Linked DNA regions of Homo sapiens. The protein of the gene in region 3 interacts with the protein of the main gene of each other region in a biochemical or structural test. Each region holds a gene or a part of one and is shown on either strand. Other genes may lie near its edges.

Region 1 (2,341 bases), on a different chromosome or scaffold from region 3:
TAAATGAGTGGCCTGTTCTGGGGCTGCCGCTCCTGTCCTGAGCATTACTATCTCTTCTGAGTTTTCTGTGATCAAGAAGCCCTCAATATTTCCTGCTTCAATTTCCCATATGAAATCAAGTGGTACCTGATTTTTAAAAAATTCAACCCAGAATTCAAGTTTTGGACTCCAATATGACAGGAGTGTTGTCACGGCTGCAGGCCATTGGTCCGTGGCCTGTGGGACCAAGCCTCTGGTTCTGATGCTCTGTCAGATAAGAAATTCCTTAGAATCCAGTAATTTAAATAACAATACAAGTCCTATAATAGTGCAATTTTGGCAAGAGCAAAGAATATCGATGGCCTTTTAAAGGTCAGGCAGTGAAAAAACCATTGGACAAAGTGTGGACTGTTGCTTTGACATAGTACTAGCACTATGATGTCTCCCAGAAGGAGGCTGGTCGTGTGTCCACCTCATCATCAGCGTTATCTTCTGATGACAACAGAGAAGGATACGGAGCGACACATTTTACGTTCACATAAGTAGCGTTCACATGGACATAGTGCTCCCCAATGAAAGTAGAGAAGATCGCTGATATCCGGGACACCAGTTCAGAAAAGGATGGGCGCATTTCGGCTTTAGGGTGCCAGCATTTTAGCATTACTTCATATCTGTTCCAAAAAGAAAGACATGCTGTAAGAGACCCTTTGAAGGCAGGCATTTCTGTAAAAGTAAAGAACGTAAGAGGTACAGAAAGACTACTTACAAGGGGTCTGGGCAGTATTCGGGTTGTAGGAGTCTTCTCCCTTGCAACAAGTAAACAGTTATATCAAAGGTGTTTACGTCAGGATAAGGTGGGGCTCCTCTTGTCATCAGCTCCCAGAGGAGCACGCCAAAGGACCACTAGTAAAACAAGAAACAGGACAGATGAGGTGAGAGATGTGACCATACATATATGAAAGGAAATCAGTAGGTCTTGGTAACTAAACTTGGCTTTACATACTCAATACGGTTTCTGTTTTGGGCAACAATTTTCTTAAAGGCAATTATTAAGCTATACATTTCATGACTTGTTTAAACAAGTAAGGTTTAGATTATAAGTAAATGTAAAGTTTTCTAAAAGAATATCTGAAGTCTACATGATGATGAAGATTCCATCTGTAGTTGGTAGAATATCTCTTCCAAAATTCTCTCCCGCTGTGTCAAAGCACTAACATGTTTCTATCCTTTTCTTTTCCAATAGCTTCACTACAATTTTACATTACTTGTAAAAGAAGAAGAAAGCCTCCCAAAATTTAAATTTGTGTGGTTTCAAACTGAACATAAATACTCTTTAAGAAATGTAACCACATTGAAAGGTTACTATTAAATGGGAAGGTCTAAATCAACATAAGTAAAAATACATATTAAAAATCAGAAATAAAAAAAACTGCAAGGCAACAAGTTTCTCTATTGAAAATTAATTTCAATAAAACTGTCACATGAAGATGTGAAAGTACTAGATTCATATAAAATAGCCGTATCAGTACTATATAGGAAGATCACAGGGACACGGAGAGGTTAAGTGACTTGCTAAAATTCCCCAATACATCTGAGTCCACACTGGGATAAACATTTAAGAGTTCCTGACCCTTAGGTCTTGTTTGGTCTACTGAACTTCAATAAACATGCAATTTCTTGATTTAAAACACTGTGCTCAGGATAGACCAGGTCATACATATTATCTCCCCCTGGACATGTGCCCATGCAAGAATGACACGAGGAGAGTCAGCATGGGCAGAGGCCGCCCCTGTGGACAGGACCCAGGGGGGCAGTTCTGGCCCAGCAACACTTCCAGGCCACTCTAAGAGTAGGAAGCATAAGGAGGAAGAAATGAAGGAAGCTTGGAGCAGAAGGAAAATCCACACCAGACAGCTGGAGTAGGAAGACATAAAACTGAGAGGCAAGTGTAGCTTGCAGTACCCAGCAAGAAGGAGAATAAAGCCTGCCTTTGAACGCTGCGACTGAAAGAAAGAAATGAGGTAGATGCTGTAATTGCTGATACAAATTACCATTAATGACTTCTTTGCCCAAGTGCAAGAACCCTTGATGGCTGCTGACTGCCTTGATCCCAACAGAAAACTCAAACCCCTTGCCAGGAGGGAGCTACAGAACTTTGCTGTCTAATTCAGCTTTGCAAAGTAGAAGTTTTCAAAGTCTGAAAATCTTAACAATCAACAATCACTTCTGACAACATCATCGTGTTAACTTTCAAGTCCCAGAATATGCATTAACATTTAAAATCAATTTAACAAGTATCAATTGACCCTTGATCACATACGAGTAGGTTACTGTTCAAGTTACTAGATAGGTCCCAGGGCTG
Region 2 (3,500 bases), on a different chromosome or scaffold from region 3:
TACATACCCAGCAAAGATTACTCAGAAGGCTTTGGTTTTATGTAACAGCATCACTAGGAACAAAGTACCTTCCCAAATATTTTACATTATTAGGAGTTCAATATTTCCTTTTACCTTTTCTCAACACTTCAAACATTTAAACCTGAAACTGTCAAGAACATGTAAAGTAAATAATCCTACATAACTTTGGGGTCAATTATAACTTTGCCAGAGGGTAGAGGGTTCAAAAAATACCTCCCTAGCTGAATGAGGTAATCGTTCCTCATCAAGCTCTACACAACAGCACTGGAATTCAAAACGCTGAAGGTAGCTTTTACCTAGTATCTCTCTTACAAAAGTCAAAGATTAAAGCACTTCTCTCTCGATAATCAAGGAGTCATCCCTCCACCAGCACCTTAGTCTTGGCAACTCCAACTCTGGCCACAGCAGTGATGGGAATGTGCTAAGGACTGGAACTGGGAAGGCACACAGGCAGGTAATTCTTTCATCAGGTAGTCATCTCAGGGAGGAGTTCTGCCAGTCAGAAAGTGGCCTAACCACATTTCCCAATACAGCAGTAACTAAAAGCTGCATTTCAGGAGAGAAAAACATCTACATGCTAGTTGGAACATTATTATTTCTATTCTTGATTACTAAGTAAGAGTGACACAAATTAACACTCTCTTTTTAGAGAAAAGTTTCGTGAAAGAATGTGTGTGTAAAGATTGGGACACAAATATTTTGTGATTTTTGATGTCTAGGCTTATATCACAGAGAAGCAGAAATGAATAGGAAAAGAGAGAGTAGGGAACTATGGCACAGAGTGCTTTTACCTTCCTCTCATTTAAAAAGTTAGCAAATAAAATGTTACAACAACTGGCTGGCTAATGAGTTAAATACAACAATAAAAACTACAACGAGGCAAGAGATCACTTGGGGCCAGGAGTTCAAGACCAGCCTGGGGAATGTAGAGACCCTGTCTCTATTTTCTATTTAAAACAAAAACTACAACAAAATGAGTTGAGTTCTTCCAATGCTTATGTCCAGGATTTCGTTTCACAAAAGCAAATGTGAAACTTGCTTAACTTAAATTACATTTACCTGCTTATTTCATGTTTAAATAGCTAAATATCTCTAGGCAATAATGATAAATAACCAAGCAATGTAAAAGTAAGTTAGAAGACCTTGGTATTATTTGACATTTTGCCCCTCTTCTGACAGGAGGATGGCCTCCTCTCACTTTTCTCTTGAAATGTAAAATGGAAGTTTGATGCTTTCCCCTACGTGCAGTATTCTTAAAGAAGTATGTATAAAGCTGTTTTCAAAATAAATTTAAACTACATGAGTCAAACCAAAAGAAAATAAATAAAAAAGGGAAAGGAAAAACAACAGGATAGTTAAAGCAAAGTTTAATATTTGTCTTCCTAAAAAAAGAAAGGCTTAATATTTTTACATTGAAATGTTTGGACTCTTGGTATGTTGTTTTTAATTCATGAGACAATGTGGCCATTTGTTTTTTCCTCTTAGGACATTGTTTTTTGAACACATAACTTAAGAGAACTACCTAGGCCAAGTATGAATTCAAAGTAAAAAGCTGGGAGAAAAGAAAACCACCATCAGAAAAGCACTTGGTAAATTTGGCATTCTTTCTAATATATAAAAATAAAAGAAAACTCAGTTTAGAAAGATGATAAACATTATTGAAACACACACTAAGAGGTGAGGAAAGAATGATTAAATGGTAGAAAAAAGTTAACTCACATTTCTCCTTCTAGAAGCTCTATTCCTTTATAACTTATATCCTTCACGTGCAGTTTGCATATAGTAGCTCTGCTAAAAACAACCACATGGAAAATTTTTGTTCCAGATAATACTGCAGGACAGGGCTTGGCAGCTACAAGTTGTAATCAGAATGCTTCAAGAGCTAATGTAACAGAGATAACAACCAAACATGCATTACAGTGCATAGTCTTAATTCTTTTTAAAAACGGGCTGGGAGAAGGTCAAAAGCTCTTAGGTTATAGTGTACTTTATTCAGTAATGCGACCTTTTAAACTAGGGAGAACTTCGCTCCTATGAATAAGTGAATTGCTTAAAAGAGAAATGATTCTTTTTTCCAGTTAGGGCATTCTTCTATTATTTAAGATGCTCAAACATAGAAGCCTAGAATGAGCAAAAAATTCCAGTTCCTAAAAATGACTTTTCTCAGCAATTCTACAGGCCTAAATTGTCATCTACAATTTATTGAGGCTCCTATAGCCATCCCACTGGCAACGGAAGAGCCTAGTTATTTAATAAATATGGAAATCCACAGTACAATGGGCCACTTTTTGCCAGGGGTAATATAAAAAAGAAAGAATGCTAATTTTATGTGTGTTATACCCCAAGAGGGGAGAATAAAGAGAACTGTGACTTGATAAGTTTTCTGTATTAGTTGGCAGACTGAGATAAAAGGAGTCACAGAAAGATCGTGACTTCAATCCAAGTTCAAATGGCAAATTCAGATGGAGCTCTAACTTGGTGGAAATTAGGCGCCATGTTGATGCGAGGAATGTGAAATGAGAGAAACCCCTCCATCCACAGGGAGAGGGGGTTTCATGTGATCCGTTGGTGTTATTCTCTCCCCCCCAACACGAGCTGGCACTCACACAGCTGGGCTAAGATGGCTTCCAAAGTCCGAAATAAGACGCTAGCCCAAGGCAGCCCTGGTCCTGCTGCTGGAACTCAGAAGCAAATGAATCAAAGGCTCTTTTATTCTCCCTCCCACCAGAACATGCTCCCTCTCTGTTGTAAACTAACTGCTTGCCAGAATGAATTACTTAGCTTAAAACAGACATAAAGAAATCTTAAACAACTCATGTCCCTTGGAATTTTAATAAGTTCAGGTGACCAAACAAGTTGTTTTGTTCATTTCTAGTTTGATGCAGAAAATTCACTTGTGCTCAGGAACCCATGAGGAACATTAGATCTTAGCAGAAACAAAAACTTCTCAAACTAGAAGATACAGCTGACAGCCAAACTCCTCACATGAAACTGGGGTGCTGGGAAGCAGTTTTTTTCATGAGGACATCTAAACTCAACACAAATCTTTGTTCTTCCTTTAAAACCAGCCCTCCCTTAAGATTTTGCTGTTGCTGCCAGCAGTACACCAGCTCTTCTAAAAGCAAAGTGTAAAATTCATTTGCGGAGTCTTCCCTGGCATCTCGTACCCCTGCATCCCCTGTTCTCACTCTAAACTTTCATTTGGCAACTAATCATATATCATAGCTCCTATAAAATGACTGACAGCTTGTCTTCACAAACAGATTAGAAACTCCTTAAGGGCAGAGAGTGGGCCTTTCCTTCCTTGCATTCCACACATGGCACATAACAAAAGCTCCTGCGATACCTGTTTATTATTCAGTCAACAGGCATCTGTTGAGCTCCTACTCTGAGCCAGGCATTGCACAGGGGCTCAAGACACAGCACCCAGCCCAGGAGCACAGCAGCCAAAGGCCCTGCATGCAGGTCTGCCTTCAGTT
Region 3 (3,500 bases):
TGGTCAAACTTCATGCGGTGGTCACCAAGGAGCCCATCTACATCATCACGGAGTTCATGGCCAAAGGTGCTGCGTGCTGGGGCTGGGGGTGCAGGCTGTGGCCTATACTGGTCAATTGCGGGCCCAAGGGTGGCTTGGACATGGTTCTTGCCCTTGAGATGGCCCCAATCTGGCCAGGAGCTCTTCCAACAAGTACTCATTGAGAATCTAATGTGGAACAATCCAGCCCTCCTGGTTAGTGGGGTGAAATCATGTTAAGGGGTCACCAAGGGGAAGGGAGAACAAGGGGCTACCAGGAGAAGGGAATGGGGCCAGAATACTCCTGGGCAATGGGAGAAGGGGCTTATGGTTCACAGTGAGCCTTAGAGGCCAGGGTGTGGCATGGGTGGTGGGGGTGCCACTCTCCCGCATCAGCCACCTTCCCTGTACTTGCCAAAGCCCTGGGAGAGGGAGCTGGCAAAGCAGCAGTTCTGCCCCCACCCCCGCCCTGCCACAACTCAGGATTTCTTGGGGAATTTTTTTAGGCCACTGTTTCACAACCATTTTCAACCCCTGCCATTTTTTGTTTGTTTGTTTTTTAGGGACAGGAACTTGCTCTGTTACTCAGGCTGGAGTGCAGAGGTGCAATCATAACTCCTGGGCTCAAGTGATCCTCCCACCCCAGCCCCCCGAGTGGCTGGGACCACAGGCCCATGCCACCACACTCAGCTAATTTTATTTATTTATTTACATATTTATTTTTAGAGACAGGGTTGCCCTCTGCCTACCCAGGCTGGAGTGCAGTGGCGTGATCATAGTTCACTGTAGCCTCAAACTCTCAGGCTCCAGGATCCTCCCGACTTAGTCTCCCCAGTAGCTGGCACTACAGGCATGCACTACCACACCCAGCTAATTTCTAAAAAAATTTTTTTTTTTTTTGAGACAGAGTCTCACTCTGTTTCCCAGGCTGGAGTGCAGTGGCACAATCTCGGCTCAATGCAAGCTCCACCTACCAGGTTCACGCCATTCTCCTGCCTCAGCCTCCCAAGTAGCTGGGACTACAGGTGCCTGCCACCATGCCTGGCCAATTTTTTTGTATTTTTAGTAGAGACGGTGTTTCACCGTGTTAGCCAGGATGGTCTCAATCTCCTGACCTTGTGATCCGCCCGCCTCAGCCTCCCACCATGCTGGAATTACAGGCGTGAGCAACTGCGCCCAGCTTCTAAAATTTTTTTCTAGAGACAAGGTCTCGCCATCTTGCCCCAGCTGGTCTCAAACTCCTGGGTTCAACTGATCCTCCCAAAGCTTTGGGATTATAGGCATGAACCACTGAGCCTGGCCTAACATATATATTTGTAAATTTCTTCTATAGATGGGGTCTTGCGATGTTGCCCAGGCTGGTCTCAAACTCTTGGCCTCAGGTGATCCTCTCACCTCGGTCTCCTAAAGTGTTGGAATTACAGGAGTGAGCCTCGTGCCTAGCCACTCTGCCCATTTTTTGATAAACAGAATCATCTCATGCAATCCCATTTAGTGCGATTTGAAACCTCAAGCCTTTTTCATTTTAACTATGCAATTATGCCAGTCCTGTGAAGGCATGATCCCAGCCATCCAGGCTCAGGGGCTGTCTCAGTCACAGAATCCATCTAGCAATCAAAAAGTCACTTCACTAAAACTCAATTCTCTTTCTCAAACACTAGGAATTGCAAACAAATATTCGTATTTAAATCTACTACTATGAAAAATCTTCACCACACACTAAAGTACTAGATTGGTGCAAAAGTAATTGTGGTTTTTGCCATTAAATAGTAAAAGTAGTAAATGTTCCTCCCCTCTCCCCCATATAGGAAGCTTGCTGGACTTTCTGAAAAGTGATGAGGGCAGCAAGCAGCCATTGCCAAAACTCATTGACTTCTCAGCCCAGGTGAGAGCCTAACGAGGAAACGGGGAAGGGAAACAGGAATTCGATTTTTTTACTTGCCAAATATTTACTGACCACATACTATGATGATAGCAGTAATAATAATGGGTAAAATGTATTGAGAGCTCAGTATAAAACTATGTTTTTTGCATATATTTTATTATACATGTACTCATTCATTTAATCATCCTATAAGCTTTATAGGCTGGGATTTTTGTTATCTATTTTGGTATAACAAACCATCCAAGTCCTAGTAGCTTGAAACAACAGCAATTGTTATTTCTCATGATCCTGTGGGTTGCCTGGGTTCAGCTGGGTGGTTCTTCTGCTCGTCATGGTAAAGTGAGGTGCAGATGTTGGCACTTGCCCAGGCTAGAATGTCCAAGACATGGCTCAGCCTCCAGGGTCTCTCCACATAGCCCCTCACCACCCAATCACCCAGCCTGAGCTTCTTCACGGCGCAGCAGCTGGGTTCCAAGACAGAGCTGGACCAGGGGCCAAGCCTTCATGAGCAGGCTCTCATTAAGCCTCTGCCTGCATCAGGCTTGCTAATGGCCCATTGGCCAAGTCACATAGCCATGCCCAGAATCAGTGTGGGAGGGGACTGACCAAGGACACAAATCCCAGGGACCCCCTCAATGTAACAGTCTGGCCACAGAGTAGGTAATTATCATCCCATTTTACAGAATAGGAAATTGAAGCATAGAGCAGAAGTAAAGTACAGATGTGGAAACTGAGCCCCAGTGTGGTTAAGTGGCTTGCACAAGTTACTGTGCTAATTATGGGGGATATAGCAGTGAACAAAATGAAAATGTTCCTGTCCTAATAGAGTTCACAATCCAGGTGGGAAGATGAGTATTAAATAACCAAATCTCTTAGAGACCATGACCCAAGTGGTCCTGGCTGAGTCAAAAGAGCACAGTATCTAACAAAGTAAATAATGTTCACAAATCGCAAAAACACTGCTGAAAACCTAATTTTCTTTCTCATGTTCCCCACGCCCCTTGCAGCTCCTCTCACCCCCAGCCTAAGCAGTTTTTTCACTTCTGTCCTCTCTCATGCTCTCTCTGATGTCTGGGAAAACAGAGTGTAAGGACGGGGTGGTATTAGAGTGCATAGCTAGAGCATTTAGCCTGGTCCAGGAGCAATCAGAGAATGCTTCCTGGAGGAAGTGGCCTCTAGGCCGAGCCTGAAGGATGAATAGAAGTTCAGTAGATGAAGAGAAAAGGTAAAGGTCTTTTAGACAAAAGAAACAGCCTGTGCAAAAGTAGGTGAAGGAGTTCAGCCTACTCAGCAGGAGCCCAGGGATAGTGGGAGTTGAGTGAGACCCTGCCTGGGCCTCAGCTGGGCCTGCTGGAGATGCCAAGGGCAGGGCTCATTTGAGTATGCAAATTCAGGGGCCCAGAGGACACCACAAAGTGTAACAAAAGACTCTACTTTCAGAGCCTGGAATGCCAGAGGCATATGGAAATGTGTTTTCACTCCTATGGGCCAGGTCCTCTGGGAGACAATAGACTGGTCTGTTGCTAAATTATCATCTTCAAACTAGCAGAAGCCCTGCTGGGCAGCAGTCACCGACCAGGGCAAGAGCCACTCTGCC
Region 4 (3,500 bases), on a different chromosome or scaffold from region 3:
TATTTACGATCTAAATAATCGTGACGGTGGTTACATACTGTCTTGTTATTGGTTAGTGACCTTAGTTTGAAATGACAAAGAGGGGTTGGCTCTATCAGGCTTCCAGATTGTAGACTCCAGTTCAAGTCAGTTGAACTAACCAATCACAGATCTCGCTTTCACCAGGCTAGTGGGTAAGGAGAATTTCTGGAACAAGATAAGAAGAAGGAAACTCATATATGTTACCGCCCCACATTTTTGTCATCATCATTTGAGATCTCCTTGTTGTGTCAGGTTCTCTGAAGTTCTTTCCTTTCACATGAGTTCTTCATTGTTTTTCATGTCATGGCCCCTTTTAGAGCCTGGTAAAGCCTATGGGACCCTTATCAGAACACTGTTTTCAACGCCTATGATGAAATACATAGGAATACCAAGGAAAACAGTTAAATCGAAATAGCTATGAAGATACTAAGTAAATTTGTGATATGTCAGTACATGTGTTTACTATAGAGTGTAACAGGCTCTGTTAGGTTGGTGTAAAAGTAATTGTGGGTTTTGCTATTTTTTCTAAAAACCACTGTAATTTTAGAGTGGTGATTAATGTAAATATGATTTTGAGATACCTATAAAGACTTAATAGGATATGAAGATATTTATGATTACTGTTCATGACAAAGTCACAGGTACAGCTGATACTACTGCGTTTTATCACCTTTGTTAGTAATTTAAAGAAATGCTAAATTTCATCTAGAAATTAGCGAAAATAAGGATGTCATTTTTCCTTTCCAAGTTCACAGGCCCCTGAATTTGACACCCATAGATCTCAGGTTAGGAGCCCTTATAGGAACTTTAGCACAACATCTAGGAAGGGAAGGGATATTGGAAGTTTTTTGTTTTGTTTTTGTAAGCTGACTAAAATAACTTTAACACCAAAAAAAAAAAAGAAAAAAAAAAAAAGCTTTCCCAGTTTTCAATCCTAAATGGATTAAGAGAAGGATTGATTTAGCTTTTTATGGCAGATTAAGATTGGGAATCCAGAATGCATCTAAAAGGACTAGTTACAGAAAGTTTAGCTCAACTTTAATGGAGAGAGTTCTCCAAAGAGTCAGGATCACAAGCCACTACTGTTTATCAAGTACTTGCCTTTCTTCTAGGCAATTTTTCAGATAGCACTGAGTCAGGCGGTGCTAAGCATTTTTACCCATTTTATCTTATTTAACCCACAAGACAATTCATAAAATTAAAAGTATTCATTTTGTTTTACAGAAGAAGATACTGAGGCTTAATTACAAATATTTTAGTGACTTTCCCAGTGTATTAGAGAAAGTTTTGGGTTTTGACAGAAAACCCAAAATAAAAGAAGTCTAGGAGTAGACTTTATACCAGGATTGGTATAAAGGTTCCATGGAGTACCCGGGCAAGTCTTTCCTTTCCATGCTTAGCCATTCCTGAGTGTAACCCCCATGTCCATGGTCCAAGATGACCACCAGGTGGATAGCCAGCCATCATATCCAGAAGGCAGGGGGCCCTTGCACTAGAGAAGAGAGGGCAGAGGGCACGTGCCAGCTATATTGTAAGGAGGTTTTCCTGAAGCTGCTATACAGCACTTACAACTTAGTGGCCAAAACCGAGTCACCTAACTACAGCTAGCTAGCTGCAAAGGAGGCTGGGAAATGTAGTCCTAATTGTGAGAGGCCGTGTTTCTGTTTTTAAGGAAGGAGAGGGACATATTCAGTGGAAACTAACAAATCTCTGCATTACCTAAGGCCCATGGTGGAGCCAGGGCTAAAATGTCTGGCTGTCTCTGACGTTTGTGCTCTTAATCTCCATGCCGTACTGACATAGTGCTCACATCTTAAAATGGGGATAATGCACTTGTGAGCCATGTATTTCAGAGGTGATTGGGATCATCTGAGTTCATATAGGTAAAAGGTTTTTGTGAGATGGTACTCAAGTTATCACTCCACATTTCAGCAACAGCAGCATCTATAAGAATATCTTCTGTTCAATTTTGTTGAGCTTCTGAATTAACATTATTGACTCTGTTGTGCTTCTATTACAGGCTCGACTACCTGTGAAGTGGATGGCACCTGAAAGCATTTTCAACTGTGTATACACGTTTGAAAGTGACGTCTGGTCCTATGGGATTTTTCTTTGGGAGCTGTTCTCTTTAGGTAAAATGATCCTTGCCAAAGACAACTTCATTAGACTCAGAGCATCTTCTTGAAGTTTCATTGGTGTCCTGCTTCCTTGTGATTAACACTGCTTTGCAAACTGTGTCTCAGGAAGCAGCCCCTATCCTGGAATGCCGGTCGATTCTAAGTTCTACAAGATGATCAAGGAAGGCTTCCGGATGCTCAGCCCTGAACACGCACCTGCTGAAATGTAAGAGCCAAAAAATTTTTCCTTTAGGTCACGTTTTCCCTTTTATTTTTCTTTTTAGAGACAGAAACCCAGATGTTGAGGGTTTTCATAACACAGTTTGAAATGTCACTTGGATTCTTTATGACACACTGGTCAAATGTCATTTCTGTAGTTTATTTTCATAATCTCTTGTCACCAAAAATACAGAAAGTTTCAGTAATATTTCATACATGCAGTGTTTTATGTTATCTATATGTCAGTCCATATGTCCAGTTGCATAGCCCTGGAATTATTACTGAAGTTGCTGGATGCCCATACATTTGAAAACAAGCTGAGGGCATTGAGGAGGGATAGTAAATGGCCCTTGTCTTGCAGGTATGACATAATGAAGACTTGCTGGGATGCAGATCCCCTAAAAAGACCAACATTCAAGCAAATTGTTCAGCTAATTGAGAAGCAGATTTCAGAGAGCACCAATCATGTGAGTATACCCTGGCCAGGCATAGAATCCCCCTTCTCCCAGTTCCAGGTGTGTCCTCCTCCTCAGGCTTTCAGGGTGAGGACTAACCTCCCAACCCCTTCTCTCCTAATCTTAGGTTGCAAATTGGGCTTCAGGTAGGGGAAGTAAAGCAATGGAAACTAGTTCTTTCTGCCCAGCCCTCCTGTTCTGAGCCAAAGAAGGATGTGAGATTGAGGGGGAAGGGTGGAGAGTTTTGTACTCACTGGAAGTAGAAGTTTCCATAAGGATTTGCCATGTTTCCTCCCTCATCTCAAATGCTGGTCACGGGGTCAGTATTTTCTCCCTCTCACATGTCAGGGCCATGCATCCTTTGGAGGGTTGGGGTGATGTGAACTAGAATAAAAGCATAGAAAAGACAGCTTGTTACTGCAGTGAAATAAGCCTTCTGATCAAACAAGCATAGCCAGAAAATGGCAGATAGCTGTCATGCCCACAAGCCATATAGAATGAAGAGCTGTTTGAAGTTGGGAGATCCCTCCCAGTGATTTGGGAAGTGTGGGGGAATGAAAACTCAAATCCATTATTTCCTCTCTTTTTAAGCAAGAATTAGTGATACTTTGACTCAGATTTTTTTAAGCTGCTTTCTTTCCTGGGCTGTGTGCTTGGAGCTATCTTTTCTTTCCTAATAGCACACCAC

What was found. The genes of interacting proteins can lie anywhere in the genome.
Region 1: the proteins of HCK (region 3) and MET form a complex in vitro, tested with the Homo sapiens proteins (one large-scale study listed by BioGRID and IntAct).
Region 2: the proteins of HCK (region 3) and GAB1 form a complex in vitro, tested with the Homo sapiens proteins (one large-scale study listed by BioGRID and IntAct).
Region 4: the proteins of HCK (region 3) and KIT form a complex in vitro, tested with the Homo sapiens proteins (one large-scale study listed by BioGRID and IntAct).

What each region holds. Positions count from the first base shown.
Region 1 is NC_000007.14:116,794,196-116,796,536, reverse strand, and holds part of MET (hepatocyte growth factor receptor isoform b preproprotein), read right to left. Parts: intron 883-2,341; coding exon 746-882; intron 651-745; coding exon 413-650; 3' UTR 1-412. UniProt on the Homo sapiens protein: Receptor tyrosine kinase that transduces signals from the extracellular matrix into the cytoplasm by binding to hepatocyte growth factor/HGF ligand. Regulates many physiological processes including proliferation, scattering, morphogenesis and survival.
Region 2 is NC_000004.12:143,343,376-143,346,875, reverse strand, and holds part of GAB1 (GRB2-associated-binding protein 1), read right to left. Parts: intron 3,417-3,500; exon of another isoform or gene 3,341-3,416; intron 1,821-3,340; exon of another isoform or gene 1,741-1,820; intron 1-1,740. UniProt on the Homo sapiens protein: Adapter protein that plays a role in intracellular signaling cascades triggered by activated receptor-type kinases. Plays a role in FGFR1 signaling. Probably involved in signaling by the epidermal growth factor receptor (EGFR) and the insulin receptor (INSR).
Region 3 is NC_000020.11:32,086,742-32,090,241, forward strand, and holds part of HCK (tyrosine-protein kinase HCK), read left to right. Parts: coding exon 1-66; intron 67-1,826; coding exon 1,827-1,903; intron 1,904-3,500. UniProt on the Homo sapiens protein: Non-receptor tyrosine-protein kinase found in hematopoietic cells that transmits signals from cell surface receptors and plays an important role in the regulation of innate immune responses, including neutrophil, monocyte, macrophage and mast cell functions, phagocytosis, cell survival and proliferation, cell adhesion and migration.
Region 4 is NC_000004.12:54,734,457-54,737,956, forward strand, and holds part of KIT (mast/stem cell growth factor receptor Kit isoform 1 precursor), read left to right. Parts: intron 1-2,041; coding exon 2,042-2,153; intron 2,154-2,264; coding exon 2,265-2,364; intron 2,365-2,718; coding exon 2,719-2,824; intron 2,825-3,500. UniProt on the Homo sapiens protein: Tyrosine-protein kinase that acts as a cell-surface receptor for the cytokine KITLG/SCF and plays an essential role in the regulation of cell survival and proliferation, hematopoiesis, stem cell maintenance, gametogenesis, mast cell development, migration and function, and in melanogenesis.